Linked DNA regions of Homo sapiens: region 1 is linked to region 2. Evidence: fine-mapped QTL for protein levels in blood plasma. A gene starts in region 2. The other region holds a variant in brackets. All regions are shown on one strand. Distances are from middle to middle.

What was found. PIP is the chance, under the fine-mapping model, that this variant and not a neighbour inherited with it causes the effect. The UK Biobank Pharma Proteomics Project read protein levels with antibody pairs (Olink). The fine-mapping took linkage between variants from a reference panel, not from the people measured, so its PIPs are less certain.
Region 1: its variant is fine-mapped to the plasma level of the GZMH protein (UK Biobank, PIP 0.96).

Annotation. Positions count from the first base shown.
Region 1 is chr14:24,675,870-24,692,628 of GRCh38, forward strand. No RefSeq gene overlaps it. Among named protein-coding and RNA genes, the nearest start is that of GZMB, 50 kb to the left of the region's middle. RefSeq lists a silencer at 3,148-3,327. The variant G/T (reference allele first, on the strand shown) is at 10,206.
Region 2 is chr14:24,601,286-24,618,044 of GRCh38, forward strand. GZMH (granzyme H) reads right to left here and starts at 8,400. Exons shown (of 5, transcript NM_033423.5): 1 at 8,274-8,400; 2 at 6,980-7,127; 3 at 6,327-6,462; 4 at 5,864-6,121; 5 at 5,195-5,461. The coding sequence starts at 8,328. The coding sequence ends at 5,318. RefSeq lists an enhancer at 4,482-4,981.

The sequences.
Region 1 (16,759 bases), 75 kb after region 2:
AAAATGTCAACATTTTCTACATTTCTCACTCTTTCTCTCTCTTTCTTCTTCTTATTATTATACTTTAAGTTTGGGGATACATGTGCAGAACGTGCAGGTTTGTTACATAGGTATACACGTGCCATTGTGGTTTGCCGCACCCATCAACTCGTCATCGACTTTAGGTATTTCTCCTAATGCTATCCCTCCCCTAGCCCCCCACCCCCCAGCAGGCCCTGGTGTATGATGTTCTCCTCCCTGTGTCCATGTGTTCTCATTGTTCAACTCCCATTTATGAGTGGGAACATGCAGTGTTTAGTTTTCTGTTCCTGTGTTAGATTGCTGAGAATGATGGTTTCCAGCTTCATCCATGTCCCTGCAAAGGAAATGAACTCATTCTTTTTTATGGCTGCATAGTATTCTATGGTGTATATGTGCCACATTTTCTTTATCCAGCATTTATGTGGCCAACAAACATATGAAAAAAAGCTCATCATCACTGGTCATTAGAGAAATGCAAATCAAAACCACAATGAGATACCATCTCACGCCAGTTAGAATGACAATCATTAAAAAGTCAGGATATGCTGCAGAGGATATGGAGAAATAGGAACGCTTTTACACTGTTGGCAGGAGTGTAAATTAGTTCAACCACTGTGGAAGACAGTGTGATGATTCCTCAAGGATCTAGAACCAGGAATGCCATTTGACCCAGCAATCTCATTACTGGGTATATACCCAAAGGATTAGAAATCGTTCTCTTTCTTTTTTTCTTTCTTTTCTCTCTCTCTTCCATTTAAAAGTAATTTGCAGGTATATTGCCTTTCTACAACTAAATTCTTCAGTGTGTTTTTCCAAAAGCAAGAAATTCTCTTTTAAACCTTGACCACTATTAAAATCCAAAGTTAATAATGCTATGTGCTATTATTTAATCTACAGAATTTTTTCATATTTTTCCAATTTTTCTAATAATGTCCCTTATAGCAATAGAAAATTCGAGATCATGCATAGCACTTTGTTGTCTTTCTTTCTTTAGTTTCCTTTAATCTGGAGCAGTTTCTGAGTCTTTCTATGTATTTCATGGCTTTGACAGTTTTTAAGAGGACAGGCAGTTGTTTTGTAGATGGTCCTCAGTTTGGGTTTGTCTGATGTTCCACATGATCACATGCAGATTATGGACTTTTGGCAGGGATCTCACAGAAGCAATGCTGAGTTTTTGCATCACATCAGGAGGCTCTGCTGTCAACGAGTTTCATTATTGGAAGTGTCACATTCCATCAACTGGTTAAAATTAAACCTGCTTGGTTTCTCCAGTAAGTTAGTACATTTACCAATTTACCTTTTGTAATCAATTAAGTATCTTGTGGGGAGATACTCCTTAAATGTTCTCCTACTAGTTGCAATCGTCTTGCCTAAAAGAATTATTATTAGGATGACTGACAAATTATTTTCTGATTTTGTCATTCTTTCTACATTTATTATTATCTGACTTTCTTCTGTAAAGAAAAGCCTTCCCTTCTCTCCTACTTACTGTTTATACATTCATTTATTTATATCAGTGTGGACTTTGGAATTCTTACTTTATTCAATAGGTTATAATGCTATTATTTATTTTGATGCTCAAATTGTCCCGTGTTTGAGGAAGTAGTTGATTTTAATTTTCAGGTGTTTGGCTTAGACAACTGATTGAGTGAGCCTGCTTTTAACTGAAATAAGAAACCAAGGAGGAGGAGAAATATGTTTCCACTTGTTGCTTTACTTTGCATCCTTTGACTACTTGTAAACTTTAATTCACATGTATTTATCTCCTTTTGTGAATCATTTATTCATATCCTGTGTCCATTTCCCTATTTGTTTTCAGAATCTTTTATTGTTTAAGGATATCAGTTTTTCTCTGACGTGAACATTACAAATTGCTTATTGAGAGGATACAATGAACTAGAAGTTTTACCAACAATCTTATTTAACCCTCACAACAATCCTCTGACATAGTACTATTATTATTTTCATTTTATAGATGAGAAGGCAAGAGGTCTTAGAAATATTGCTCCAAATCATGGGCTAGCAACCACTGAAAGCCAGGATTTAAACCCATATCTGTGATACCAAAACTTTGATTCTTCATCTATAATTTTGCATGCTGCAGGCATGCAAAACTTTTTTAATGTTTTAAGAATGCTGGGAAATTGAATGTCATCCCCACAGCCCTTTTAAAGTTGTAGCCACAAAACCAGTTATTGTAATTACATCTTAAATGCAGATTTATTGTATCTAGCATGTCAGTACAAGTTGTATCATCATACTTATGCCATAGCAGCATTCCACATTCGTACTTGACAGTTCATTTGGGACTCAGCAAAATAAATATGTGAAGTAAGTGGGTGCTCACATTAAGGCTTGTTGAGAATGATGTGACATCTAGGAGACACCTGGTAAGGTTCATACACTTTGTGAAGATGACATGGTAGGGAAATGAAGACCACTGACTGAGAGCACAGCAACCCTGGGAGGCCTCCAAACTTAACTCCAGGAAGCACCTCAGCCTTTTATCTGGGAAACAGAAAGTTCAATAAAAATGGTCTTTGGGCAGGACGTGGTGGCTCACACCTGTAATCCCAGCACTTTGGGAGGCCAAGGCAGGTTTATTTCTTGAGCCCAGGAGCTCCAGACCAGCCTGGGAAATATGGTGAAACTCCTTCTCTACAAAAAATACAAAAATTAGGCGTGATGTTGTGCACCTGTAATCCCAGCTACTCGGGGGGCTGAGGCGGGAGGATCGCTTGATCCTCCCAGGGTGGTCGGGGTGAGCTGTGATCACGCCACTGCACTCCAGCCCGGGTGTCACAGCGAGACCCAGTTTAAAGAAAAAAATAAAAAGTCTCTGAGGCCCTTTCTGTCCCTGACTTTCTGGAATTCTCCCATTCTTCTATAATAGGCACTTCTTGGTTTCCCTCATTTTTGCTTACTTTATTTTTCTTTCTCTTTCTCCTTGACGTGTCCTCTCTCCTTAACTTCTTTTTTCTCCTCTGATGTGCCTTAAATTTGCCAGGGGCTCCCTTTGGAAAAACCCTGCCTGGCCCTATTATCCCCCTGATCAAAATGGTCACACGTTGGTGGCCTGGGGGCTGCCCTCCTTGACTCATAATGCCGGGACCCCTGATTTACACAGCAGGAGAGGGAGTGATCTGCGAACTCCTGAATTGCCGCCTTTCAGTTCCTGCGGCTGCTCTGACTGTCTGCATTGCGCCCTCTAGTGTCCAGACTGAGTTCTTTTACTGTCTAGACTGGGGAGTCCAGAGCAGATTCTTTTACCCGCCACGTGAGGGAGCAATTCAGGGAAAGTAAAACTATTAGTAAAAGACATTATTTTATTTTCAAATAATCGTAATTTTACCGAGTTCCTAGAAAAATGCACATTCTTAAAATTTATATTGTAAAACTTGTTGAATAGACGATCAATTAGAATATGGGAAGAAAGGTTTGGTTTCTAAAATATTAATAAGCATATTTGACATAGCAACCCAGGGAAAGCATCTAGTCACTTATTCCTTGTGTTCATACAGTCCTGTCCTTTACAGATCCCCAAGAGTGTGCATGTGTTTGATCTAAGTTTAGCCCCGAAATAGCTGGAAGGAGCTATCTCTAGCCCTGACATTTCCATGAAGCTCCAGATGGCCCGCTCAACTCTCCACATGTACCGACAGACAAAACAAATGCAATTGTGTGCAAAGCAGAACTCTAGATTCCTCCTCTCCCGACCCTGCTCCACCCCATTCCCCCTTGGCACCGCCAGCCACTTATTACCATAGGCCCAAAGCCTAGGAGTCATTCTTGACCTTTCTCTTTCCCGCACCTTGCAGCCAGTTCACTGGTCATTCCTGTTAGCTCCACTTTCAAAATATATTCCAAATATAACCACTTCTTGGCACGGACACCGCTACCATCTTAGTCCAAGTCCTCATTATCTTTCTTTTGATGACAGCAGTAACATTCTAAGTGGTCTGCGTCGTTCTCCCCTCCCCTTGCCCTCACTTGCTTCACTTAAACAACCACAGCGATCTTAGAAAAATGTATCACATCTGTGTTCAGAACCCTCCAATGACTTCCTGTCTCATTTAGAATTAAACTGCAAAGTCTTTCCCATGGCCTACTCTCTGACCTTGCCCTCCTCCACTCTTCCCACCCCTCACTCCTTTCCACCTGCAGGAATGTCCTTTCTGAAATGCTCTATTCCCAGATCTTTATTTTCTCCTTTGCTTTCTTCAGGTCTCTACTCGAATGCCAACCCCTCAGAAAAGACTCTCTTAGCCACCCTGTCACGGGTAGCCACCTCCACACTCTCTGGTCCCATATCCTGATGTATTTTTCTTTCAGCATTTACCCCTGAGAGAAGATTCCCTGTCTCTGTGTGTTCATACTCTGCCCTCCCCTGACTAAGATGTAACTAAGATGTCAGATTCATGGCCAGATCATTTGTTTTGTTCCTTGCTGAATCCTCAGCTTTAAGCATATAGTGGCCATTCATTGATGGATGAAGGAATAAATAAATTATTAGTTTGAACCTTGTGAAATTGTTGACATTCTAAAAATTCTGGGCCACAAAAATAGCAATTCCAATAGTTCATCTTCATAATATAATATCGTTAGCATTTTATACCTAGGAAAACTGAAACTCAATGAGTCAAGTGACTTCCCCAAGTGAAATAAAGAAAGAATGAGAGGCAGACTGAGAGCACTTCATTTCGTTCATGCAACACTGAATTGTGTTCTGGACACTGCTAGGTGTGGGAGCCACTGAGGAGAAGGGCCTGCCCCATCTCCTAACTCAGCCACTCTGCCTTTGTGGCTAAAGGATCTCTTGCCAGCTCTGACTGGCGGAATGGGCAGGGCTACGTGTGAACCCAGAGCAGCCACCACCTCTCTGCAGAAGGGCCAGTGTCAGGGCAGTGTGGACTGATCCCCACTGCTTCTGTGACCTCTGGCACTCAGGGCTCCTGCCTGGTGGGCCTCGACCCTATTCCTTCTGTCTCAGAGGAAATGTAGAAAAATGTAGAACTGCTTCTGCATAGTGCCACTCCTCTGTCTATCCCCAATCTCCTCTTCAACATTGTGAAGCTGGAAATGACGCACATAGGGCACCCTCTTGACTGCTACTCCCCATGCATTTCTGACCCTCATAAGAGAGGCTGGATGGGAAACCACACTGATCCTCCAATACTTCTATGCTCAATAAGCCATCTGTGAGTTGGAAAGGAATTCAGAAATGGGGAAGGGGGCAGGTCGACCTATTTTGCTTTCACAGCAAAGGGTGTGTAGCATCAGGGTGACATTCAGGGCTGATTATTAGGTTGGTGCAAAAGTTATTGTGGTTTTTGCCATTACTTTTGCACCAACCTAAAAAATGTGTCAAATTTTTCTTCCCCAGACAGCTGGCCCTCTGAGTCACAGTGGGAGCAGTATGTAACAGGAGGGGAGAAGAAAATGAAAAAGCCACACAACTGTCTCTTTCTTTGAGCCCTTTTCCAAGCTCTCCTTAAATTTTCAGTTTCTCCTCTTGGTCATTCTCCCCAACAAGTGCTTTGTTTCAGAATTATTAATAACTGGAAAAGTTCTGTTTTTTTTCTCTTTAACTGGCATTTTGCTTATCCTGTGGCTTATTGAGCCCTAGGGAATTTATGCCCTATAAATAAATGACTATTATTATTATGTAGCTGTATTCAGAGCATTAGTTGAAAGGGAGAAGTGACATTTTTCTTTATTTGCTTTAGAAATGTGTTGTAGTCACAATAGCTCTCCTCCTGCCTGGGATTAATGGCATAATTATTCACACCGGGCAACAGAGATGGAATGAGTTTGAACTTGGCATGAATTAATACACCAAAATATGCCTCTTGTTCTTGCTCACTGCCTAATTAATTCTGAATTATGAAATTCTCTGTGAGCTACCCAAAAAGCATGGTCACCGGATTCTGGTGCAATTGTTCTTTCTTTGCACTAAAAATCAAGTGATTTGATAGTTATGGGCTGTTTGGAAAGAGAATGTCCATTTGAATATCCTAGGAAGGAAGGAACAGACCTCATAAGGGATTTTTCTAGAGGTTTTATAGTAAATAACCTGTGTATGATGGACATGCAAGGGCCCCCAGGGGAGACTGAGCTTTGCATGAACCAGCTTTACTGCTAGAGAAATAGAGGACTTAGGAGTACTGTGCCTTGATGTCTAGAATTTACACTATAGAAGGCCATGCCTTTGGATTAGGATATTTTGTTCAGAGGTTCCCAGTTAAATATGAATGAGTTGTCCATGGAGAATAGCACAATCACCTACCAACTCCCAACATAGGGTAAGGAGAACTTGCCACTGCATGACCAACTTTACTCACACTTTGCTAGCTTTTGCCAACACCTCTGCCGGGGATGAAGAATCATGTGAATTATTGGAGCTCAAGACATTGAGTATATGAGCAGTTTCTTATTGTGGCATAAGAAACACAAACACAGCCCCTGCTCCCTTGCTCTCTCTTTCATCCCATGGGGGTATGAAAGTGAATTCAGGACTGATCACTCTCTTCAGTTGCCCTTTCTGCAGTTACCTAGAGAGGATAAAATCCCATTAATTGGATTCAGGACTTGGACAAGAAGGTTGAGCTGTAGGGTCTTAGTCAACCATTATTAGGACTTTGACCTGGAGTTTTGGGGCACTTGTACACCATCAGTACAGGATATTTTAATTCTTATTTGTTTTATTCTTTGTGGGTGCCCCTCCCACAGTCCTCGGAGAACTGAAGGGGAGAGAATAACTGGCATGACAGTATTTTAATATCTTTCTTTGTGTTTTTGGCAATGATATGATCTAACACTATCAATATAAAAATTCTAATGTTAAATATGGTATATTCATTGCTCATCTGAGCATCAATTAGTGCATCCTCTTACCTTGAAATGATGGCTTTCTACTGGATTTCCCCATCCACATGTACACATCCTGTGCTATCTCTCATTTGGAAAACAAAATGAGACAGGAGTCTGTAAACTTCTTCATTCCCTTCAGGTAATTCTTCATGTCTCTGCTTCCCTTTAATGAAAATTTATAAAAAAAAATGTGTATTTTTGTCTTCATTTTTTCAACTTATATTCTATCCAATTCTTGCCAATCTATGTTTCCCACCAATTAATGGAAATCATCTTTGTTAAAGTCATCAATATCCTCCTCCTTGCTAAATTTAGTATCATTTCTGTATCTTTTTCTTTTCCTCAGCAGTGTCTGACACTATGGACTATGCTGTCTTTCATAAAGCACGTTTGTTTGTTTGTTTGTTTTTTTACTGGCCTCTCATCTGGTTCTTTCCTGCTTCCTTCTAACATCTTTGTCCATGGTTTCTCAGTCTGTTTTCCTGGAGTCTCCTCTTCCCAGGCTCAGTCTGTCTCTTTATCTGTGCTTATTCCCTATGTAATCTCATTGAGTTCTATGGCCTTAAATACATTACCCATACACAGATGACTCCTGTGTTAACTAACTACTGTCACAGTAGCAGGTAGCCCCAATATCTCACTGCCTTACAAAAACGATTTATTTCTTGACCATTTACGCTAAGGCTGTGGGTCAGCTGTGGCTCTGCTTAGCTTTGCTAAACTCAGTGTGACTTATCCTAGATTGAAGAGCCCTTTTCTGGAATACGTTGTCTTATTGTGGAAAATAGAGCAAGAGAGTGCAACACAAACCATGAAATCATATTTAAAGCTTTTTCTCAGATATGTACATGTCCTCACATCTTATTAACTGAATTATTTCATGTATCCAAATATGTGAAGTGGAGACACATTGTCTCTCCGAAGAGGGAAGACAACTCACATGACAGAAAGTGAGTGAGGATAAATCATCCTATTAGACTATGGGAACAAATAATTGGGAATAATAATCTATCATGATCCAACATTGATCACATATATTTTCTTCCCTCAGAATACATCATATTCTTGCCCATAAAAACTTAGCCTAAGGGCTGGCTGACACCTGTGATTCCAGCACTTTGGGAGGTTGAGGCAGGAGGATCACTTGAGCCCAGGAGGTTGAGGTTGCTGTGAGCTGTGATCACACCACTGCACTCCAGCCTGTGTGACAGAAAAAGACCCCATCTCTAAAGTCATTTAAAAGCAAATTAGCCTAAGGGCCAACTTTGCTTTTCAAATAGTCACAGACTGGCAGCACTTTTGACAACCTAACTCTCTCAAACACTTTGTTGTATTGTTTTAATCTATTTGGTACTGGTTGGATCCATGTTCCAATAGACACAACCATTACTCATTTCAAGAAAGACTTTCTCTAGACTTGATTATGGGTATGTGGGTATATCATGCTTTCATAGGAACGTACTCTTGATCTCTTTTCCCTGAGCCGTTTTGTCCAGTGGTGGAAAAAAAAATGTCTGCAAGTCACCTTAATCCAACCAGAAATCTTAACATAGGCCTGATGATGACACCTTTGGTTCTGTCTTTGCCCTGAGATGGAGTATTAAAAGGCCTTTCTATTTCAAGGAATACTTAAATTTTATATTTTATAGGTGGGAGGTGAGAAGGATTTTATTGTCCAAACTTGAAGGCCCAGAATTTCTTTGCTGCCTATTTTCCATCTCATTCATTGAAATAGGTGAATTCTTTCTGAGCTCACCTCTTATTCATATTACCATCATGCTCTCTTTCAATTTTTCAATCCTTCTATATTTGTCCATATGCAGCAAGTCCATTAGGAACATTATCTGCCTTCCAAGTTTAGAAGACACAATTTGACCAAACTTTTCACGACTGCATATCATGAATCTTACTTGTCCAACCTCCTGGAAGAATTCCCTTGCTACCTAGCCCTAAAGTTAATGCCTCATATTTTATATTTTTAGATATGGTAGCACTTCTGTTACCAATTTTTTTATTAGTTGGCCTTTACTGAGGTTGCAAATAACTCCAACATATCAGTATTTAACAACAATAAACATTTATTGATTTCTTGTTCATGTTACATGAGGGCTGAGGGATTATCTGTGACTCAGCTCAGCTTGACTGTGTTCAAGTCCATGCGTCTTTTTATTTCAGGACCCAGAACTGATGTAGCCACCCTTATCTTGGACATATTGTTCTTATAGTGTGGAGAGCAGGAACAATAGAAACAGAGGTAAACCAGATAATCACATCAGAAACTTCTAGTTTGACATAGGAAACTTACATCTGGGTGGCCAGAACATGCTCATAAATTCCATGAGGAAGGAAGGTATAGTCATCCCTGGAAGAAAAAGTCACATGACCAGAAAGAGAGCAAATAGCTGGGGTCAATAATACAATCTTCTAAGACTCCCAGATGTATGTCTTTAGCACTGGCATCTCTTCCTTTTGAGCACCAAACATATATTTAACTGCCTACCCAACATTGCTATTGAGATGTCCAATAAGCATCTCAGATTTAATATGCCTTAAACAAAACTCCTGAGTGCTCTGTTCACCCCAACCTGTTATGCCCTGCCTTCCATACCTCAATAAATACCATCAGTATTCTCCCAGGTAATCAGGAGGAAACCTCCAAGTTTTATTTGATTCGCTTTTCCCTTTCATAGTCAATGCATGAGTAAATTCTGCTGGTTCTACCTTCAATATACATCCCGATTTCTTACCATCGCCAGCACCATCATCCTAATAATCTTCTAACTTGTCTCCCTGCTTCTATTCTTGCCTCCCTAGAATAAATTCCTCATACAGAAGACAGAGAGATCTTTGAAGCATGCAAACTATATCTTGTTAGTCCCTGCCCCAAACCCTGCAACGTCCTGGTTCCTACACAGACACTGGGTTTCTATTCTACATGGTCAAGTCAATAGTAGGTTCAGAGTGACAGAAAGATCAGTATTAGAAATTTATACACTTGGGTAAATCAAAAGAAATCTACTTCTCTAAAGGACAGTAAAAGCCCCTGTAGACTACACATCAAATGTATCAGCAACATTTTTCTGGACAAGTGGTGATTGTAAGCTTTTGGATCTCGAAATGTTTCATTAGCTATGAGTTCATGTCCTTTGTAGGGACATGGATGAAATTGGAAACCATCATTCTCAGCAAACTATTGCAAGGACAAAAAACCAAACACCGCATGTTCTCACTCATAGGTGGGAATTGAACAATGAGAACACATGGACACAGGAAGGGGAACATCACACTCTGGGGACTCTTGTGGGGTGGGGGGA[G/T]GGGGGAGGGATAGCATTAGGAGATATACCTAATGCTAAATGACGAGTTAATGGGTGCAGCACACCAGCATGTCACATGTATACATATGTAACTAACCTGCACATTGTGCACATGTACCCTAGAACTTAAAGTGTAAAAAAAAAAAAGTTTCATTAGCTAGCCACAGGTCACAGATAGCAATGTCTGAGTGAGTGAGTGTCACATCAGAACATTTGGAAGCTCAACCATCTCATTTTAGGTTCATTAAAAAAATTTGTATACATTTAAGGAGTACAAAGTGCAGTTTTGTTACATGGATATATTGCATAGTGGTCAATTCTGGGCTTTCAGTGTAACCATCACCCAAATAATGTGCATCGTACCCATTAAGTACTTTCTTGTCCCTCACCTCACTTCCACCCTCCCCACTTTATAGTCTCCAATGTGTATCATTCCACACTCTATGTCCATGTGTCCACATTATTTAGTTCCCACTTAAGTGAGAACAAGTGGTATTTGACTTTCTGTTTCTGTGTAGTTTCACTTAAGATAATGGCCTCCAGTTCCTGCATGTTCCATGTTGCTGCCCCCATCTCTACTACAAATACAAAAATTAGCTGGGTGTGCTGGTGCGCGCCTGTAGTAGCAGCTACTTGGGAGGCCGAGGCAAGAGAATCGTTTGAACCCGGGAGGCGGAGGTTGCAGTGAGCCGGGATTGTGTCACTGCACTCCAGCCTGGTGACAGAGTGAGACTCCATCTCAAACAAACAAACAAACAAACACCAGCAACCATGAGTTCATTCTTTTTTTATAGTTTGTATAGTATGAGGCTGGAAGAGTTCCGTGTGTCTCTTGGTATGGACTGTGGTTGGAGCCCAACTCTGCTGAACCAGGTACATTCAGGGTTATCCAACATCTAAGATCACTGGAGAGAACAGCATGCCACCATAGGTTTAGATGCAAATACAGCCCTCAGTTGACACCCCATCTTCCCCAGGCTGATAAAGCCTGATCCAAGTGATTCCTGAATGCAGTCATGTAGATCTAGGCTCTGTTATCCAGGAGTCCCTGAGAGTCATGCTAACTGGCCTTCAATGTGGTTCTAGTCCTCTCCTGCAGTTCTCCAGCATACTTCAAATAAAATTCAAAGTCCCGAAAATGTTTTTAAGGTCCAACATAATCTGGTTACTGCCTAACTTATTTCTTCTGCTGTGGCTACATTGGCTTCTTACTGGTCCTAGAAGATGCCAAGCTCATTTCTGCTTCAGAAATTGCACATGTATGGTCCCTTGAATGGATGCTCTTCATAAATCCCTCAGATGCCTTCTCTCACCATTTCATTCAGGTCTCTATCCACATGTCACCCCTCAACAAACACTTTTGGTCACTCAATCCAAAATAGCTCCTGCTCACATTCATATCACTTTATATTGCCTTTTTGTATCCACAATACTGACCACTCATCACTTGACATAATATGTTTATTTGTTTACTCTTTGTCTTCCCCACTAGGACATAAAATCCACAAGGGCAAGCATTTTGACTGTATTGGTTCCTTATGTATTCCCATCAATCGGAACAGCACTTAAAGAATTAAAAATGCTTAATAAATATTTGTAGAATAAATAATAAAATGCACGAGTGAATAAATGAGACAAAAGAGTTTGAAGAGGAATAAAGAAAATGTCTAGATGATGAAAATCCTTCTGACAACACCACACAGAAGTACAGTATTGTTTTATTGATGAGGAAACTGAGGCTTAGTTATTTTCCCCACAGTTGGTAAGGGGTAGAGTCAAGGCTCATTCCCAAATCAGTCTGATGCCAATGACATAAAAGCAAACCTTATGTCATGCGTGCATCCAGGGGGAGCATGAGATGAAACTTGGGTGTGGCAGGAAAATGAAAATGTCTATTTCTGTTCTTTTATAAACTTATGTGATTTTAATTTCTATTTTTATAATATATGCAATCATATAGTATACCACTAATGCATGTATATTTTATTACTAAATACTCACAGATAGGGAATATATGCTCTAAAAATATTTGGAGGCCACTTATCTGAGTTGCCATCTGTTTCTAGGAGGTTCTGAGCAGGGTGGGGTTAGTGGGTGTCCATGGTGATAAGGAACAGAGAGGAAGTGGAAATGGAAGGGAATAAAATGTTGACTTCTTCAGCCTGGGTCTGTGGGTGGGGCAAATATGTAAGTGTGACTGTAAGGGTCAATTTTCTCAGATGTGTGTCTGGTGAGAATCCCCAACTTGCCACCACCATAGCGAATAGTGGTCTGAATTAGTTTCAGGACAGGACTGGGCACGTAACCAATGGAGGCTAACGTCTCTAAAGACATACTTATCCATCCAAACTCAGGAGAGGGCCAGGTTGGGAATTGCTTCCTCATTCCTTTCCTTCCTGCTGTCCTCCATCTTCTCACGTGCATTCGCAACTGTGTGCTCTTGCACACACACCCAGCACAGATACACACTTCTGCACTTAGAACTTCTCACCAGCTCAGAGGAAGACCTGGGTTGAAATGGAGACCGTAAGAAAGTGAAGAGGCAGAAGAAATGATCCATTCTAGATCTCTCATTCTGTAGATTAGGAGACCAAGACTCAGAGAAAGAAAATACAGTAGTTCCTGGCAGAGCTAGGATTAAGTTCTCTCAGTCTCTTGACTTCCAGCCTCTGCAATCCTCACCCTTCCACGGAAGCCATTTTACCTCATTTATGCCCATTTTCTTACAGTGTAGTTTTATGCAGAAGGCTGGCCACATTCTCACAATACCAGGTCTTTAGAGCACTGCAACCCAGGAGGCCCTCAATAAGGAGGGTTCACATAGATGAACCTTCCACATGAAGCATGTGCTTTTCCTTCAGTTTCATATGATGTGATCCTCACTCAGTAAAGCCTGTGAAATATATTCCAGGAAGCACTGAATACTTCTTTCATCTTTATTTATAAACTTCTATGAGTCCTCCCAGCCCGTCCTCCAACTAGCACATCCTCACTGCCTTACAGAGCAGGAACCCAAGCAAGTACTTGAAGCTTAATTGATCTGGATGTTTAGAATCAAACTTCATTAGCTGAAATTACTGCAGTTTGCCTAATTTGTTTCTCTATGTGAGCTCTGATAAGGTTGGTTTAACATCTTCTAAACTGTGGTGTTTATCATCATCAATGCCTACTCAAATTACCCCTGCAGAGTAATGGGCCAGGAGAAAAATGGTTTAAAAGTTATAGCTATTTTTTGTGGACATTTCTACACATACCATATACAGTATGTGGTGTCCAAGTCACTACAAAAAAGCACTTATTTCCACAGGGCAACTTCACTTTTTAAAAACAAAACACTGCCAGAAAAATCTTGTCAATCATCAATATTCAAACATTTTTAGGTGTTAGAAATTCTATACATTTTGAGATTTTTTTTTCTATTTATAGACAGTGATTAAACCCATTGTTTTGTTATTTTTCCAGTCTGTTAGAGACTTTTGACTAACCTGTGTGTGTGTATGTGTTTGCAAATACATACATTTGTGTTTGTGAACAAAGCATTAATTTAAAAGAGGTTTGTCTCTAAGAATGACTCTATTGATCTATTCCAAATGCAAATAAACTTTTAGCATGATTGAAAGTCGTATTGAGTCTCCAGGAGGAACAATGGCTACTTACAGAAGCAACGGTTGCTTGTATAAGGAACAATGGTTGCTTCTATAAGAAGGGGCACTGTGAGGGAAACTTTCTCCTATAAACCCATTTATCTATCTTTAATTGCACATGTTATCTTCTCCAATAATTAAAAACAAAAAATGCATTGTCAGTAACAATAATCCCAAATAATCATTTTTCCATACTACTACTACCTGTTAGTGGTGCTATATATATAGCTTATATTACTATCTACATACAAATACGTCATTTCAGTGTGTTCTGGCAGTAGCCAGGTAGGTGTTTGAGCGTTGTGTTGACAGTCTAACCATTGGTAATTGCTTTAACATGGAAATTTAATGTGAGGAAGCATGGCCAACATGCAGAATATAGAGACTTATTTTAACATCATCACACGTACCTCAGTATTTTGTGTCCTTCTCCTAGGATGAATGAACATTTCATTCATTCATGCTGACAGAAGCTCTGGTTTCAAAAGGGACAAGTCGCCACCAGATTTGTAAGAAGTGTGTCTTTTAGATGGTCTAGTTAACCTTTCTATATTGATAAAAACCAGCATTATTTCCACATTTCCTCATACTTCTTAAGTATACCCACTTGTGCTAGAAATGGAAAATTCAGAAAATGAAACATGTAATCCAGAGCCCAAACACCATGCCTACAAAAAATAGGGAACTCAGCTAATAAAGCAACATTTGTCTTTCTTATTTGTTAAGTTATCTACATGATTGTATCAATTCTTGACTGAAATACCATGCACCCCTGGACTGACTGCCTGGGAGTACAAATGATGTAGGGAGTAATTGTGGTCACACTGGCATGTGTATTTAGGTTTCACTTAACAGTTCTCACCAGGGGAAATGTGAAGCACCTGGCCCCTTGTCCCTTCTCAATGTCTCCCCGACATCTGTTATTTTAAGGAGCCCTCCAGGGGTCACTCTTCACTTAAGGCTCACTCTAGAATACCTCTGAACTCCTTCTCACTCCTCTGGCGGCTTGTGCTTTGCTGTTGTTCACTTGCAAGCCTCTTTCCAGGCGCTTCCTCCAGGTTAACATGACACCACTGGAGCTGCCCACCTGGCCAGGAAATGCCACCTGCCCTGTGTGTGGGCCCTTGCTGCTGCCATCCACTTGCCAATGGAGAGGGAAATACCCACCGTCTTCATTGGGTCTGACCCTCTTACCGGGATCCCACAGCCAGGTTTCATGGCCCAGAGCTGCTCCAGTGCTTTGGCTTTTTTTTAGAAAACAGCTTTATTCAGATAATCACATACTATACAACTTGCCCGTTTAAAGTGTGCAAATCAGTGTTTTTTGGTATATTGTGTTATTAATTTTTAAAAATTATAAAATGTATACAACAGAACATTTACCGTTTCAACCACTTTTAAGTGTACAATTCAACGGCACTAATTACATTCACAATGTTGTGCAAACATCACTATTTCCAAAACTTTTTCATCATCCCAAACAGAAAGTCTTAACCATTAAAAAATAACTCCTTATTTCTCTCTCCTCCAACACGTGGCAACCTCTAATCTAATTTTTACCTATGCATTTGCCACATTCTAAGTACCTCATATATGCAGAATCATACAATACTTATCTTTTTATTTTGGTGTCTTTCATTTAGCATAACGTCTTCCAATTCATTCATGTTGTAGCATGCATCAGAACTTCATGACTTAATGGCTGAATAATATCTCGTATGGCTATACCACATTTTGTTTTTACCTGTTCATCTTTTGATGGACATTTAGGAGGTTTCCATCTATTGGCTATTGTGAATAATGCTGCTATGAAAATTGGCTTATAAGCATCTATTTGATACAATTGTTGGATCATATGGCAATTCTATGTTTAACTTTTTGAGAATTGCCAAACTGTTTTCCACAGCAGCTGCACCAAGGTACATTCCCACCAGCAATGCGTGAAGGTCAACGCTTTTACTTTTACACAAATACCACGTTTTCCCCCAAGGCAGGTAAACACTGACAGGGCTGCTTGGAAAGGACAGTTTCAGTTCACAGGTGGATGTTCAGAGGTACCTAGTGCCTCATTCTAACCTGGTTTCTCTTTGCTCCTTCAGTTGTCTGCTAGTCATATTTGTTCATGCCTGGCCCCCAGTTATTAATACAGGTTGAGTTCTAGTCCCCGAAACTTTTTAAGCCTTAATGCAAATTAGTCAAAAAAACGCAGATATAAGAAAGGGGACCCACTGCTAGTTCCAGACCCAAATGTCTACTTTGGCTTAGCTGGGTGAAACTTTTAATACTGTATTTATGTAGAGACTGAGCTGGTGGCTCTGCCTGAAAAGGCTAAACAATTTAACGAAAAAAAAAGTCATTCATTCGATGAGTTATGAACTGGTTAATAAGCCATGTGAGTCCAGGCCCTTCAGGAAGCAGGCACCGAGATGGGATGAAGGCTGGACATGGTGGCTTGTGCCTGTAATCCCAGCACTTTGGGAGGCTGAGGCAGGAGGATTATTTGAACCCAGGAGTTTGAGATCAGCCTGGCCAGCATAGGCAGACTCTGCCTCTATAAAAAGTAGAAAAAAAAAAAGAAAAATTAGCCAGGCACTATGGTGCACACCTGTGGTCCCAGCTACTTGGGAGGCTGAAGTGGGAGGATGGCTTGAGCCCAGGAAGTTGAGGTTGCAGTGAGCCATGATCACACACTGCGCTCTAGCCTGGGCAACAGAGCAAGACCCTGTCTCTCTCTCTCTCTCTCCAGAAATACATTATAATATATAATTAAACATATAGAAGTTATTATATATTTATAATTTAATTATAATTTTAAAACAATTTAATTATAATTTAATTCCTATATATTTAATTATAACATATAATTAAATATATATTTATATTTATACATTTAATAGAACTATATATTTA
Region 2 (16,759 bases):
TGGTAGCAGCAATGGGTAGGGTGGGCCTGTCCACAAGCCCTGGGACAGACTCCATGTGGGCCAGTCCCCAGGACCCTAGAAGTGGCACTGCTGTATGGGTTGGGGAGGGTGGCGATACAGGGTTGCTGTCAGTGGCAGTGGTCCCAGGCAGATGGCTCTCAGGCTCTGAGGAACATGTGCTTTGGCTCACTTTGTCTCAGGGACAGGCTTATGCTGAATTCTTATGTTCTGTCTTAGAAATACTATTTGATACGTGATTATCTACCTACTGTTGTAGTCTTTCTTTGTGGAGGAAGCAAGTGCTGGCTGCCTCTAGCCAGCTATCTTTATCACCTAATATTAAATGGAAAAAGTAGAGTGTAAAACTATACAATTTGACACGAATTTGACAGAATTGTGGGAAAAGGGCAATAATCAGAACAACAATTTTATGTGATTCTTATTTTCACTTTATATTATTGATTTTTTTCTATAATGGAAATATATTCGTTTTATAAGCAGGAGAAGAAATGTAGAGCACATGATCCTTATAAACAGTAAACACCATTAAGCATTTTGATAGAGACAAGCCAGCAGTTTGGCAAAATAATTTCCTTTTCTTCTGAGGGAAGAAATGTAGTTCATTTCATTGATGAGCTACGTTGTCCACCTCACTTGGGGTTAGGTGTGGCTGTGTGATTGTTGCAGTAAATGAACGTGAGTGGAAATGATGTGGGCACCTTCCAGACCTGGCCCAGAACACACTCCTATGCCTGATCATCTAGGCTTTTCCTCTTCCATGGTTTGATGCAGAAGAAGTTGGGGAAGGATCTTTAGAGAACTGAGCCTGGATCTCTTAATCCTGGGCTGACCATGTAATTTGTTGGCCAAACTGGAACACGTAAGAATAAAAGGATGCAACTGTTCACTGGGAATATTCATTTTGTACTGTGTGTGGGCAAGATACCAACTTCGGCCGGGCGTGGTGGCTCACACCTGTAATCCCAGCGCTTTGGGAGGCCGAGACGGGCGGATCACGAGGTCAGGAGATTGAGACCATCCTGTCTAACACGGTGAAACCGCATCTCTACTAAAAATACAAAAAATTAGCCGGGCGTGGTGGCGGGCGTCTGTAGGCTCAGCCACTCAGGAGGCTGAGGCAGGAGAATGGCGTGAACCCGTAAGGCGGAGTTTGCAGTGAGCCGAGATCGTGCCACTGCATTTCAGCCTGAGCGACGGAGCGAGACTCTGTCTCAAAAAAACAAACAAACAAAAAAAGAACAGAAATCAACTTCTGTTGTGCTAGTCACTGAAATTCTGAAGCTTATTTGTTATAATAGGGTTATCTTAATTCACACATGTACAAACTTAAGCCAACCTTTTTCTCATATGGAATATTGTTAAAAAATAAAGTTAATATAATAATCGTAAAATTTAAAAAGTTGAATACATTACAAAATAGAAAGAAGAATCATGTCAGCCTTAATCCTACCACCCAGCTGACAGTTAACAGAGATGTACTTTCACCCAGATTGTTTCTTTGTATATTTTTACATAGATGTGACTAAAATATATTTATTTTTGAATCATATATTTTAAATTAACATAAACATTTTCCTCATTTTATTAAAAATCTATTAGTGAATATCATTTTAAAATGTTATTCATATCTAATAAACAGACTTTTAATTTACTAAATAATACATAAAAGTTATAGAAAAATTAAGAAAATAGATACATAGGAAGCAAAAATGCCTACAGGAAAAAGGTGTATATAAGCATGGCCAACTGTGATGGTTCATACCTGTAATACCAGCACTTTGGGAGGCCGAGGCAGGTGGATCACCTAAGGTCAGGAGTTTGAGACCAGCCTGGCCAATGTGGTGAAACCCCCTCTTTACTGAAAATACAAAAAATTGGCTGGGGGTGGTAGCACATGCCTGTAATCCCGGCTACTTGGGAGGCTGAGGCAGGAGAATCACTTGAACCACAGTGACCCGAGATCACACCACTATACTTCAGCCTGGGTGACAGAGCGAGACTCTGTCTCAGGGAAAAAGAAAAAAAGAAAAAAAGTGTATATAAGCACAAATTTAATTGTAGTATATACCAATCTATAATCTAGTTTTAGCATAAACATACCTGGTGAATATTCTTCCATGTGACAAAATGTAGTTATATATCGTAACTTCAGGGATTTCATAGTGTTTAATAATATGCAGCTTTAAAAAATGAATCCCCCAATTAGTGCTGGATATTTGCATTGTTTCTAAGATTTTACTTGTATACCAAGGTTGTTATAAGGAAAAACTGTGTTCAGTTTTCTTTGTGTGGTTGATGGCTAGGTCAAATACTTTTTTTTCCACATAAAATCCAGCTCCTGCAGGTCAAAGAATCTCTTTTCTTTTTTGGATCTTTGTGTACAAGCCGTGAAAATACCGTTTTCTCAATGCTTATACTGAATCTGAATATTATCATTTTTGTAAATCCTTCCCAATCAGATAAGCAAAAGTTATTATTTTAATTTGTATTGATTAATTATTTTCCAAATGTTTACTTTTTTCCAAATGTTTATGAGTTTTTTTTTTAAAAATGAACTTGCCTATTAATGTTGTTAGCCTAGTTTTTTATAGCTGTGGATAATGTAGATGTTAATGGCTGCAAAATGGATATGTTGAATGCATGATATTTTACCATTTCCCTATTTTGGACATGAATACTGATTCTAATATGGGCTCTATTATTAAATAATGTTGCAATGAACATATTTATGAATAACCTTCACACACACAACACACACACACACTCTTCAGATCTTACATAGGATAAAGTCCCATGCTCAATGTCAAGTGTTTCTGTTAGATCTAAGAGGGAAGACTGACCCACCAGGCACTCTCTTACTAGGGTCCTTTGGCCCTGGTGGCAGAAATCTTTGGTCACTCTGCCGCTGTCTTTGGCTTACACCCTGGGACTCCATAGAGCTCTACTTGGCTGGTTTTTTGGGGTCTTTGTGCTTCTTCTATGTGATGGCCCCCTGACTCTTACGTGTGCTGCTGGTCACTTGCTTATCTCTGCATATATTGACTCCTCTCTCACCTGTGCTGCTGCCAGTACTGCTTCCCAGGGAAAGGCTTGGGAGATAGACATCATGACAGCCTTATGTGAAAAATAAGTCTATTTGTTTTTCCTCTTATTTTTCAATGTGCTGGATTTTTTCCCTGTATGCGTGTGATTTATTTGTTATTCTTTTCAGTGAAGTTTCTACTTTTTTCAGTGTTGGTCCCATTTGTTTCAGTGTTTGCCAGCTATTGTGAGTTTACAGTGTTCTGTCACATTTAACTCATTAGCAGTACTATTTGAGAGATCAGGATCCTAAATAAAGTCAACGGGGTCACTATTATATTAACTGTCTCACACTTGAACTGTAGCATTTCTTAAGTTTGTGGACTGAGGTTAATGTCTTCTATATGCAGAATAAACAAAGCCAAGGCTGCTCTGGTTGTCTTCTTCCTTCCTTCCTGATATAATTTGGCTCCGTGTCCGCACCCAAATTTCACCTTGAATTGTAATAATCCTCACATGTCGTGGGAGGGACCCAGTGGGAAGTTATTGAATCGGGGGGGCCAGTTTTTCCTGTGCTGTTCTCGTGATAGTGAATAAGTCTCACGAGATCTGATGGTTTTATAAAGGGGAGTTCCCTGCACAAGTTCTCTTGCCTGCCGCCATGTAAGACATGACTTTGCTTTTAATTCACCTTCCGCCATGATTGTGAGGCCTCTCCAGCCATGTGGAATTGTGAGTCAACTAAACCTCTTTCCTTTATAAATTACCCAATCTCAGGTAAGTTCTTATTAGCAATGTGAGAACAGACTAATACACTTCCACACCTCTGGACACAGACTCCACTGAGCATAGATTAAAAACTTTAGGACCTGAGAATCTCCAAGTCTCTTCTAATTTCACACACTGTCCTTCTGGAATCAAGCCAGATCATGCATGTGAGGCTGTAATGAACACTACAGGTAGAATATAGATAATTTAATTATTTTTAAAACAAGATTTCTTGTAGATTATAAATACAGATCCGTTTGTGCCAAACTGACCTGCCTGGTAGAAGCAGAGGAACCAGGAGAATTGAGATGAAACTTTTTATCATTGTAAAATTTCCAAAAGCAGGGACAGGGCCTATTATATGCCTGGCACAAAGAGAGAGATCAGCAAGTATTAGTCTATTGATAACTGGCATAGTGTTACTTCCAGCCCAGTGGCCCTGGAGCCCTCTGGTGCACAGCTGCCATAACCCCAGATTGCCAACAGGGGGAGTCTGGGTCTGAAGCCAGGCTAGGCTGAAAGATGTTGAGGCTGCTGGGTGGCTCCCCAGAAGGTGATGCCTGAGACCCTGGGGAAAGCTGCACTGGACTGAGGGCCTCAGCTAGCCCTGCCCAGGTGGAAGGTGAGAGCTGGCTCCTCTGATCAGCATCAGGTGGGCTGGCAGCCGAGGTCTGGCTGGGACAAGCAGTAGAGAAGAATTCACACAGAGCTGGGAACTCTGTTAGGGACATGAGAGAGAGGCTGGCTTCAGAACAGGGTGATCTAGAAGGGAAAGAAACTGGTAGCCAGGGCACTTGGGTGAAAAACTCTTGGGAGCTGGGAAGGCCGGCCAGGAAGGAAGAAGGTTGACTGAGCTCAGGGCTGGGCCCAGGGCAGGGAAGAGGGACCTAGGTGCAGAGGAGCATCTCAACCTCCTAAGCTGCAGGCAGACCTGGCTGTGGGAGAAGCCTGCCCCCATTGGAGGGACAGGCCCTGAAAATAGGAAACTGAGTACTCATGGCATGGCCCCTGGCCTTCTGAGTCCCTGGAGTTATTTCCTTTCCACTGCCCTGCTCCATTCTCTGCTACGTTGTTAGGGGAGTAGGTAGTTGGTTTAGAGACGATAAGAAATTCCTAACGTCCAGAGAGGTTTATTTTTTTTTGTGAAGGGAGAGGGGTGAAGATTGTTTGTTTATAATGGAGTTCAAACCAGCTCTAACAGAGGGTTCAGTATCAAAGACATGTGATTGAGAAATTAGTGAAAAAACTGTACAGCATGGGGTTTAGGGAGGAGGGAGGGCTGGGGGAGAAAGGAAGAAGCAAAAGCCAGAACTGACAGCAGACGGCTGCCTGGAGCAGTGTTGTTGCATATTGAAGATGGTTCAGTGAATAAATAAGACTTCAGTCATATTTACACCAGAGATCCATTTATTACAGTCCTGCAACCCCGACTGCCCACCCCTTGGGGATTCTTGCCTCTGTCCCAGAGATGGTCAGGCCCAGAGGAAGGTTAGTCTCATGCCTGCTGTTAGAGGCGCTTCATTGTTCTCTTTATCCAGGGCAGGAAGTGTGAGACCTTGATGTAGACTCCTGGAGGTGTCCCTTTTTTGTTTCCATAGGAGAGAATACCTTGGGCTACGTCCTTACACACGAGGGGCCCCCCGGAGTCCCCCTGTGAACAGAGAGAGGAAAGACTGAGCTAGTGTTCCCTGGGATGGGTGGTCTCTGTTATGGATTTTGTGTGACATCAGTGCCAGGCAGGCCTTGTCACTCACCTCCCTCAGTCCTGGGTCTCCAGCATGGCCCTGGCTGTGCTTTCTGGCTCTCCCCAGACCAAGCCTTTCTCTGCAATTCTCACGGACACTTTGGTGATAAGTGACTGTCGGATGACAGATCCTTCCCCTCCAGCCACCCCAGTCCACCCAAGGAGTGGACTAAAGACTAGATTCCAGGGGGACACAGGCTGCCCAAGCTCTGGGCTGAGAGCATAAAGATCTGGCCACTGTCATACCCCAGAACTCCCTCAAGTTCCTCTCTCCCTGTGGTCTTTCTGGGTAGAGGCTGGAAACCCAACCTTGAAACCGGTCTGTGTCTTCTTTGGATCCCCCACACAAATCTCAGTGGCTCTGCTGTAATTGCCATGGAAGAGACGTTCACACTGGCAGTCCTTCTGCACTGTCAGCAACACTTCCTGCAGTGTGGTTGCTAAAGTGCTCATTGAGACATAACCCCAGCCAGCCACACTGCACAGCTGCCCTGGCTTCACCTGGGCCTTGCTGCTAGGTAGCCTGAGAGGCCGCACAGCTGTGGTCCACTTGGCCTTTCTCTCCAGCTGGTGGGGAAGAAGCAAGAAAGTCCAGGTCAGGCAATGGCCTTCTGGGCCCCGACACAGTGATGGGGCTGCACAATCTTCCCTCTCCTCTAAGGCACAGGAACTGACCAAGAGGTCAGGATGGAAAGGAGGAAAGGGCCGGCATCCCAGTGGGAGTGGAACCAACTGGACCAAGAAGAGCAAGAGTGGCAGGAGTGTGCCTCACCTGCAGTAGCATGATGTCGTTGGAGAAGTTCTTAGGATTATAGGCTGGATGGGGGATGGGTCTTTTCACAGGGATAAACTGCTGGGTCCGCTCCTGTTCCTTGATATTGTGGGCCCCCAAGGTGACATTTATGGAGCTGCACAGAGAGCAGAGTGAGGATGGGGGTGGAGTCACAGGGGATAGAGCCCAGGAGCAGTGAAGAGCAGATGACAGCTGTGGCAGGGTAGGGCTGCAGCTGAGGGGAAGTTGAAGGGACAGGAGGGCTCCAGGGCTGAGTGACTGTGCCCTCTACTTCACAAAGACATGAAGAGTAGGGCTTCTGGGGGCTCTCTCTTGCCTTCAGGAAATATCATGAAATTGCTCGAGTTTGCATTTTGATCCTTAATGCATGGATTCAACCTTTACTACTGCCTTATTGGGCCAGTGTGTGAAACCATGCCACTTGCTCTGACCTCTGACCCTCTGACCCTCTGACCCTGTCCTATTTCTCAGCCTTTCATCATCTTAGTCCTATTCCCAGGTGGCTGCTCCGATGAGCTTTCATGGGCTTGTGTTACCAGGAACTCTGGAAGCTCCCCTGGGCTGCAGTCCCCAGGAGAAAACAAGGGTCCCTGTAGGGGGAACTCAGGAGGTGAGCTGGTGCTGCTCCTTACCTTCCCTGGCAGTGAGCAGCTGTCAGCACAAAGTCCTTTCTCACTAGGATGCCGCCACACCTCTTCCGACTCTTCTCTTGCAGAAACTGAACAAAGGCCATGTAGGGGCGGGAGTGGGGCTTGGCCTCATGGCCCCCGATGATCTCCTCTGAAAGGAAAGACTGGAAGATAAAGTAGCTGGGGATGGCTGCAGTCAGGAGAGAAGGCTTAGGACGACAGTGATTGAGGGTGAAGTGTTTTGTGTGCTGCAGACAGTGAGGGAGGGGTCCTCCTGAGCTCTGCAGGCAGTACTCCTTGCAGGCAGAGCAAGCTTTTCTGAACTTTAAGTCTCAGAACCTTCTCTCAGAAAGAATGGACAGTGCTTGACTTCTGCATCCTACTGCAGAAACACACATGGAGGAAGAAAGATCTATTTTCACAGTGGTAGAGCCCCAGAGGATCCTGGACAGGACTTCCCAGGCTCCTCCTTTTTAGTGAGTCTCTCTGATTCCTCTGAGCCTCTGCTGTCCTCCTGATTGGTGCCATTTTCTAATGATCTACCCATGAGCTTCTGGAGTTGGATTTTCTAAAATTCTCATGTGCCAGGGCTGAACACATTCTAGGTTCTCAGTAAGTGTTGTTTGGTGCATAAATGAATAGCCTCCAATTAGCCTTTGGCTGAGGTTTAGTGGGGGTAGTGCTGGTGGGATTCAGGACCTCAGGGATGTTAGAGGGGGTTATCACCAGGTCAGTGGAGTAGCTGAGGGCCTGCAAAGGCAGAAGGAAGTGGAGAAATCAACTAAAAATGAATCGCAAAGCCCAGGTGGAGCCAAGGTAATGGGAGAGCTATGGACACAGTCATCTTGCCATCTCTGAGATCAGTTGCACCATGGGCTTCCCTCCTGGCAGGGGTGACTGGGTGGGGGCACTGAATAAGTGGTTCTTAAGCTGAGTCCAGTAACAACTCCTATGACTGCAACTTGGTGTCTGAGCTCCTCTTTCCTGGGTTGGAGTGTAGAGTAATAATTACTTATCTTTTTTAGCTTCACATTCCCTACCAAATGCCTTTCTAAGAACAATCCACACTCCAGGTCATAAAGGAGAGGTCTAGGGAGAGGCTAACACCCATTAAACCTTTTAGGGAACACCCTTCATTTTTCGATCTTTGCTGAGTGTCTATCTAGCCTCAGATTTATAAGTCTGGGTGTGGAATGGGAGGTGGGCTCAGATTGAGGAAAATTCCTGACCAGTGCTCATGGGTACAGGGTATCTTATAAGATGGGTTCAGGCCTCTGGAATAGGGATAGTCACTTACCTGTCCCAGCCCCAGGGGTCAGAAGAAAGGCCAACAGGAGGAGGAATGGCTGCATTTTCTCAGGAAGGCTGCCCAGGTCAGAGCTGTTGGTGTTGACTCCTTCCAGAAACAAATGCTGGAGGGAGATGAAGGAGGGATGGGTACAGTAAACTCAGAGACCTCCTAGACTTGTCCCCTTCTGGTTTTGATGGGTGTCATTATAGAAGGTGGTTTATTAAAATTATCTGGTTTGGTTTAAGTTGACATGGCACTGTCACATTTACACCCCTGCTGCTGAGTAACAAGGTGAAAGCAAGAATAAAGAACAAGGAGGTGGAGCTGTTGAAGCTGTGGCTGCAGCTAGCAGAAAGGCTGGTACTGCAGAAGCTCCTCAGTGACTGAGAACCAAGAATGTCTCCTTTTCTCAGTTCTTGGCTCTTTTTCTACTCAGATAAAATCATGAATAATTATTTAGCAAGCCAGATCCAGGGATATGAGAGACATGGCTCTTGCCCTTGAAGAATTGATGGTTAGCAAGAGTAGACTGAAAATCTGGGGTTAGAGCACAAGATGGTAAGGGCCGTGGTGGGGAAATCTGCCTGTTGGTGTGAGACGGAGGCTGGACTTGCCTTAGCAGTATGCAGAGTTGCACACACCCAACAAATACTGCAAATGGCAACCCATTCCTATCTTACCACTATCTCAGATTCATATTTTTGGGATATTTAGAATCCCCTCTTTAAATATAAATATTCTGTGACAAAGATAACTTTTTTTATTCCACAGTTCTGCACAAAAGTTCTGGACTTGATATTTATTGAACCAAAATGAGTCATCATTGGGTCCACTGAAGTGTAGTGGACTGATTGCTTTATGCTTTGGTTATTTAGCCCTCCTTAAGCTGAGGTGGGGACTGTTCCACTCCATCTATGGTGCTTATGAATGAGGAGGGGATTTCCCTTGAGAAATGCTAGTTGTTGTTGCCAGGTGATGGAAAAATGGATGCTGATCATCCTGATAATAATTGTTCACTAAGGCCGGGCGCGGTGGCTCATGCCTGTAATCCTAGCACTTTGGGAGGCCAAGACGGGTGGATCACGAGGTCAGGAGATCGAGACCATCCTGGTTAACATGGTGAAACCCCATCTCTACTAAAAATACAAAAAATTAGCCGGGCGTGGTGGCGGGCTCCTGTAGTTCCAGCTACTTGGGAGGCGGAGGCAGGAGAATGGCGTCAACCCAGGTGGAGCTTGCAGTGAGCTGAGATCGCGCCACTGCACTCCAGCCTGGGTGACAGAGCGAGACTCCATCTCAAAAACAAACAAACAAACAAACAAAAAACTGTCCACTAAGTATTCTCTCAGTTTCCAGAGAGCCATGTCTCTGATGTCCCTTGGCTCACAGTCATAGGCTGTCCATAAACAAAAATGTGTATATATACATATGTTTGTATATTTATGTATATGAATATATATAAATATATATGTATAGTTAAGTAGGAACATGTAAATGATAAAATTAAACTTACCAAAAATTCTACCACCGGAGATCATTATTAATGCTTAAGCATGTTTCCTTCTACTATTTTTCTAGGTATTTATAAGGTGCTATTCCTGCTATTACTTTAACAGAACTGGGATAGGACTTTAGGTGATAGACTTTTTTGTGATGAATTTTCCAGGTGTTCTTTGAGCTTCTTGTATTTGGATGTCTAGGTATCTAGCAAGGACAGGGGAGTTTTCTTCAATTATTTCCTCAAATAAGGTTTTCAAGCTTTTAGATTTCTCTTCTTCCTCAGGAACACCAATTATTCTTAGGTTTGACTGTTTAACATAATCCCACATTTCTTGGAGGCTTTGTTCATTTTTTAAAAATTATTTTTTCTTAGTCTTTGTTTGATTGGGTTAATTTGAAAGCATTGTCTTTGCGCTCTGAAGTTTTTTCTTCCGCTTGTTCTAGTCTAGTGTTGAAACTTTCCAGTGGATTTTGTATTTCTCTAAGCATGGCTTTCATTTCCAGAAGTTGTGATTATTTTTTCTTTATGATATCTATTTCTCTGGGGAATTTTTCACCCATATCCTATATTTATGTATATATATATTTTTTAATTTTTAAAGTTGTTTTTTCACCTTTCTCTGGTATCTCCTTGAGTAGCTTAATGATCTTCTGGATTGTTTATCTGGCAATTCAGAGATTTCTTCTTGGTTTGGATCCATTGCTGGGGAGCTAGTGTGATCTTTTGGAGGTGATATAGAACTCTGTTTTATCATATTACCAGAATTACCTTTCTAGTTCCTTATCATTTGGGTAGACTATTTCAGTGGAAAGGTCTGGAACTCAAGTCCTGCTGTTCAGATTCTATTATCCCATGGGGTGATCCTTTGATGTGGTGCTCTCCCCCTTCCCCTAGGGATGGGACTTTCTGACCACTGGACTGCATTGGCTGTTACTGCTTTTCTGGGTCTAGCCTCCCAGTGGCGCTACCAGGTTCCAGCTGGTGCTGGGGAATGTCTGCAAAGAGTCCTGTGATGTGATCTCTCTTCAGGTCTCCCAGCCATGGATACCATTACCTGCTCTGGTGGAGGTGGAAGGGGAGTGAAGTAGACTCTGTGAGAGTCCTTGGTTGTAGATATGTGTAGTGTGCTGGGTTTCTTGAATGCTGGTTATGCTAGCAGTGAAGTTTTCATGTGGACACACTCAGGACCTCTGTTTAGCCAGGATGTTGCAGGCATTGGAATTAGGTGTTATCTTCTCCTTCCTGGGTTCAGGGTTATTCTGTCATGAGTTGCTGTAATGGCCTGTGTTGTTTGGCCTCCAGCCAAGAAGTGGTGCTTTCAAGAGAGCACCAGCTGCATTGGTAGTAGAGGGATCTAGGTTTGCCCTAAGTTGGCCAGGGTGAGTATTTTGGTTTCTCAGATGATGGGTGGGGCCTGAAAGCTCCCAAGAGTTTCTATCTTTTGTGTTTGGTTACCAGGGTGAGTAAAGAAATACCATCATGTTGGGGCAGGGTTAGGTGGGTCTGGGCTCAGAGTCTCCTTGGGTGGGGTTTGCTGTGGCCACTGTGCGGGATGTGGGGGTGGTTCTTAGGCCAATGGGGTTATTTTCCAGAGGGGATCTTGGCTACCTCTGTTGTGTCATATAATTCACCAGGGAAGTGGCGGAAAGCTGGTAGCGAGAGGTCTCACCCAGCTCCCACACAGTTGGCAAGGCCAGTCTCACTCCCAAAGTGCCCCACTCAGATCTTGCCCAAGGCTGTGAACTTTCCCACTGAGAAAGCAAGCATGGATTTCAGATATCACCCCTCCCCATCTGCCCACTCCAACGGGAGTGGCTTCTTTGCTTCTGAGTTCATGTGCTCATATTGCCAAAGCTCCCACTCGTCCCCTAGACTCCACTAAAGAAAGTTTGTGTCCAATTGAAACCACTACCAATTTCAGTTGGAAGCTTCCTTCACCTGGTGACCCCTCCCCAATTCCACTGGCTGCCTTCCCTGAGAGATCCTGTGAGATATAGTCAGGAATGGCTTCCCTGGGCTCAAGCTGAAGATTGGAAGTGCCTTGCAGTCTTCTGATACTGATACTTCTACTTTTATATTTTGTGTGACTGCCTACATTTGTTTCAGTTCAAGGTAAGGTTAAATTCTCCCTTGATCTGGATTTTCAGATTCCCCAGTGGGGATGTGTGTTCAGAGGCAGGTTTTTTCCCTCTCACACTTTGGGAACTTACAGTTTTTCACCTGTTTTGCAAAATTTGCAGCAGTGTCCTGCTTCTTTCAAAGGGTGTGTGAATTCCTTTGGTTTTCCTGGTGTGTTCCCGTGGTGGTTCTTGGAACAAAAGAACACAGTATGAGTCTTCACATACTGTTGTGTCCATCTAAGTGGGAGTTGCATGTGGGTTTAAAGAAACCTGACTCATGAAGGACTTCCCATTTTTTGTACTGCCATGATCATCAGTGCATTATTACTGTCTCACACTGTTTCTTCATAGTGTCTCTCATCCTTCAGATCTCACCTTTTACTGGTATTATTATGGATCCTAGTAATTTATTTAAAAAACAGCAAAAGCTTAAACTCTCCTCCTTTGAGTCTCATGGGGTTGGAGTGGAGTTGTTGGTTTGGATCCTTGCCCAGGTAGCTTTCAGATCCAGCCCTCATCTTCCTGCTGCTCTTCTCTGTGACACAGTCTACATCACACAGATTTCTCTGTCTGACAGCTCTGTCTTCTTGGACCAAGCCAATGGGTGGTGCTGAAGAATTAGGGTCTTTTTCCTTCCCACTCTTTCTTCTTAGCTTGCGGACTGTTTCAGGATGACTCCTCTGCTCTCCTCCTGGCTCCAGCTCTCACCTGGCAGGCTAGATATGGTTTCATATTCTGCCAGGTGATCAGGGTCCTGGCAACACTGCTTGCTCCCTCCATGCCTCCAGCTAGGTGTGGTAGTGGCTTCCTGCTATTGCTAATCTCTCGGTTGATTCATTTTACCCTCTTTGGCTCCTGTCATGTAATCAGTTCCCTGGAATAAACTCCTTTTGTTTGCAAATATTTGGAGTGGTTTCTGTCTTCTTGGACCCTGACTAAGACACTCTGGGGTATTAATTTCTTAGTGCTGTTATAACAAAGTATTACAAACTGCTGGCAGCAGGCAACAGAAATTGATTCTTTCACTGTTCTGGAGGCCAGAAGCCTGAAATCAAGGTATCAGCAGAGTTGGTTCTTTCTGGAAGTGTCTGGCAAAGTCTGTCCCATGCTTCTCCTAGCTTCTAGGGGTATCAGCAATCCTTGCCACTGCCTCGGCTTGTAGATGCATTGCTCCAATCTCTGTATCTGTTGCTGGGTGATCTTCCCTGTGTGTCTGTGTCCACATTTACCTGTTTTAAAGTGATGCCAGTCATTTGATTAGGGTCCCTCTTAATCAAGTATGAACTTATTCTAACTTAGTTACATCTGCAAAACCCTGCTTCCAAATGCTGTCACATTCATAGGTGGTGGGTGAACATAAACTTTGGGGGGACACTATTCAACCCAATACAGTTGGATTTTAGTTTGAGTCTTTTGTTCAACAAACAGGCCGAGACAAGGATTTAGTTAGAGGTAATTAATTTTTTTTCTGAGATAATTCCAAGAGACTGGAGCGAGGAAGTAGGAAGAATGAAACAGGGAAAATAAGGAGAGCTAACCATGAGTGCATTACTGAGCTACCTATTGCTGTGGGTATCTGGAGCTGAATCCTGCTGGGGACTCTTTGAGAATCCATAAAGAATGGATGTCAGCATTGTCTTTCCAAAATTCAGGAGGCTGGGTCATTTGCCTGGTAATTCCTGTTTCCAGGTGGTTGAAATTTGTCTCTAGGAGCATTAATTCTTTCTCACTTGAGGGCTAAGACTGCTCTTGGACAGAACAAATTTTTATAGCTCCAGAGAACGTCCTGAGAGAAAAGCTCAGAGGTGCTTGGGTGCCTGGGCACTCGAGGGGCAGCCCAAGGCACAGTGGGCCAAAGTGATGTATTGCAAGGAAAATAACATCTATTTCCAGGGCTATCTATGACCCTCCTTATTATCCAGGTCTGGCCTGTGTCTTATGGAGGAGGTGAACTCTCTTTAATCAGTTTACTAAGGTTTCTTCTTTTCGCTTGTCACTGCTTCAGTCTTCTGAAGAGGCAAGGTCCCTCCCCTGGGGCTCCTGCTGCTCTCATTCACTCTTCAAGTGTGGCCGCTCTCTTCTGCATCTTCACCTCCTCTGATGATGGAAGAAGACTTGACTCATTGGCTGTGAAGGAAAGTTAAAAAGAAGTCATGTTTTGTGTTTCTTTTCTATTTCTTTTTTAAATTTACAGTTTCTATTATTGACAGTACTTATTATGTGTTTGTTGTGTTAGTGATGTTTCCGCACTCATCTGATTCAGAATTTGTACAGCCACCTTAGCTTTAGTGCTTTTGTTTCCGGTCCACTCACCTAGTGGCTGGCTGATGGAAAGAATATCCTAAGGTAACCGGTCTGGGGCCCCAGGAGCTGTGTGTGATGTGCTGGATGATACTGGCTAAGCTGGCTCACTCCACATGCTGAGTATAGGTGCCAGGGAGAGATTATGTATATAGTTTGTCATTTGGGGTCAGATCAGGGGGTCTAATGGCAGTCAGGGCTGAGTCATAGGGTCAGAAGAACACAGATGTGCAAAACATGTGAGCTGGGATACATTTTCTCTAATATTTTGAGGAGAGCTGGTGCCTGTAAGCTCGGGGATATCAGAGCTCATCACATTTCTAACTGGCCTGCCTAACTAAACAATCAATAAACAACTGAAGATAAAATAATGGCCAAAAAATCTGTGGCTTGATTATGTTAAAGTTGATTGAAATGAAACACAGTGACAAGTGCAAGAAAAAAACTTAAAATGTACCTTAGAAAGAGTATGTGGCTAATTAGTTTGCTGAATAAATGAGAAAATACTCTATATCATAACAACAACTAGAATTTACTGAGTCCTTATGTTTTTAAGTACTTTATGTTCTTCCTATCATAGAATTATCCCAGAAATTATGCAAGGTAGGTATTGATACTATCTCTATTTTTACATGAAAAAGTTGTGATCAAGAGAAGTTAAGTAACTTGCTCAATCTCACACTGTGAGGAGGGAGTAGCCAGGGTTTGAGCATCATAGCTTGATTCCAGAGCATCTGATATTAACCACTACACCACTAAATTCCATGGAATCTGGAAAAAAAGAGGGTCAAAGATTTTTCTACAGCTCTTATGGGGTCCTTTTCTGTGTGAGACTCACAGATACTGGAGATGAGATTCCTTGGCTCTGTTGGAGGACACAAAAACACTAGTGATTAGATAAGGATGGTGAAGGCCATGCTTAGAGGAATGGAAAGAATGATGTGGAGAAATGCAGAAGAAGGTGTGCTTCAGCACTAAAGATTTTAGTCATTTAAAACAATAACAATATTTACCTTGCCCACGAGCCTGCAATTTGGATCAGGGTTGGTGTTGATAGCTTGTCACTGCTCCCCTCCATGTCAGCAGGGGCAACTTGAAGCCTGGAGGCTGGAATCATTTGAAGGTTCACTCACTCACAGGTTCAGCAGTAGTTGCTGGGAGCTTCATGTCTTCTTCATGGCGGCCTCCCTATGTTGCTTCACTGCATGGTATTGTTTCTCACCACTTGGTGGCTGGGTTTCCCAGAGTGATCATCCTCCCAAAAAGTGAGCCAGGCAGAAGCTGTGTCCTTTTTGTTACCTAGACTTTGAAGTCATATGGTATCCATTCTACAACATTCCATTGCTTGGAGCAATCTAAAGCCCCCACCCAGATTTAAAAGAAAGGGACATAGACTTTGCCTCTCAGTGAGAGGAGTGTTGAAGTCATGTAAGGAGAGCTGCTGGGATGGGAGATGTGCAGTGGCAGTCATTACAGAAAGTACAATCTGCCACATTGCGTTAGGTGCATGAAGGATTCGTCAGAGAAGAGTTGAAGCTACTTTGATTGGTATAAGCCTTGGGCATAGCTTTTGGATAGACTGAGATCTGCTTTGTCTAAACTTTATATACTATGAATGGAAGGAGGGTTAGTTTTCCAGGAAGACAATCTCTTTAGTGAATTACTAATTCCATGTGAACTAAAAACTGATGCCAGGGAGCCAAATAGTATCCTCACATTTCTGTCTAGGACACATTTCTGATATCCTTGTACAATAGTCTTCCTTTATCTGCAGTTTCAATTTCTGCAGTTTTGGTTACCCATGGTCAACAGTGCTCTGAAAACAGTAAGATATTTTAAGAGAGAAACCAGATTTACATAACGTTTATTAGAATATATTGTTATAATTGTTCTAGTTTTTTTATTTTACTTTAAGTTCTGGGATACATGTGCTGAACGTGCAGGTTTGTTGCATAGGTATACATGTGCCATGGTGGTTTGCCACACCTATCAACCCATCATCTAGGTTTTAAGCCCTGCATGCATTAGGTATTTGTCCTAATGCTCTCCCTCCTCTTGCCCCCCACCCCCCAATAGGCCCCAGTGTGTAATGTTCCCCTCCTTGTGTCCATGTGTTCTCATTGTTTAACTCCCACTTACGAGTGAGAACATGTGGTGTTTGGTTTTCTGTTCCTGTGTTAGTTTGCTGAGAATGATGGTTTCCAGCTTCATCCATGTCCCTGCAAAGGACATGAACTCATTCTCTTTTATGGTTGCATAGTATTCCATGGTGTATATGTGCCACATTTTCTTTATCCAGTCTATCATTGATGGGCATTTGGGTTGGTTCCAAGTCTTTGCTATTGTAAATACTGCTGCAATAAACATACATGTACATGTATCTTTATAGTAGAATGATTTCTAATCCTTTGGGTCTATACCCAGTAATGGGATTGCTGGGTCAAATGGTATTTCTTGTTCTAGATCCTTGAGGAGTCACCACACTGTCTTCCACAATGGTTGACCTAATTTACACTCCCACCAACAGTGTAAAAGCATTCCTATTTCTCCTCATCCTCATCAGCATCTGT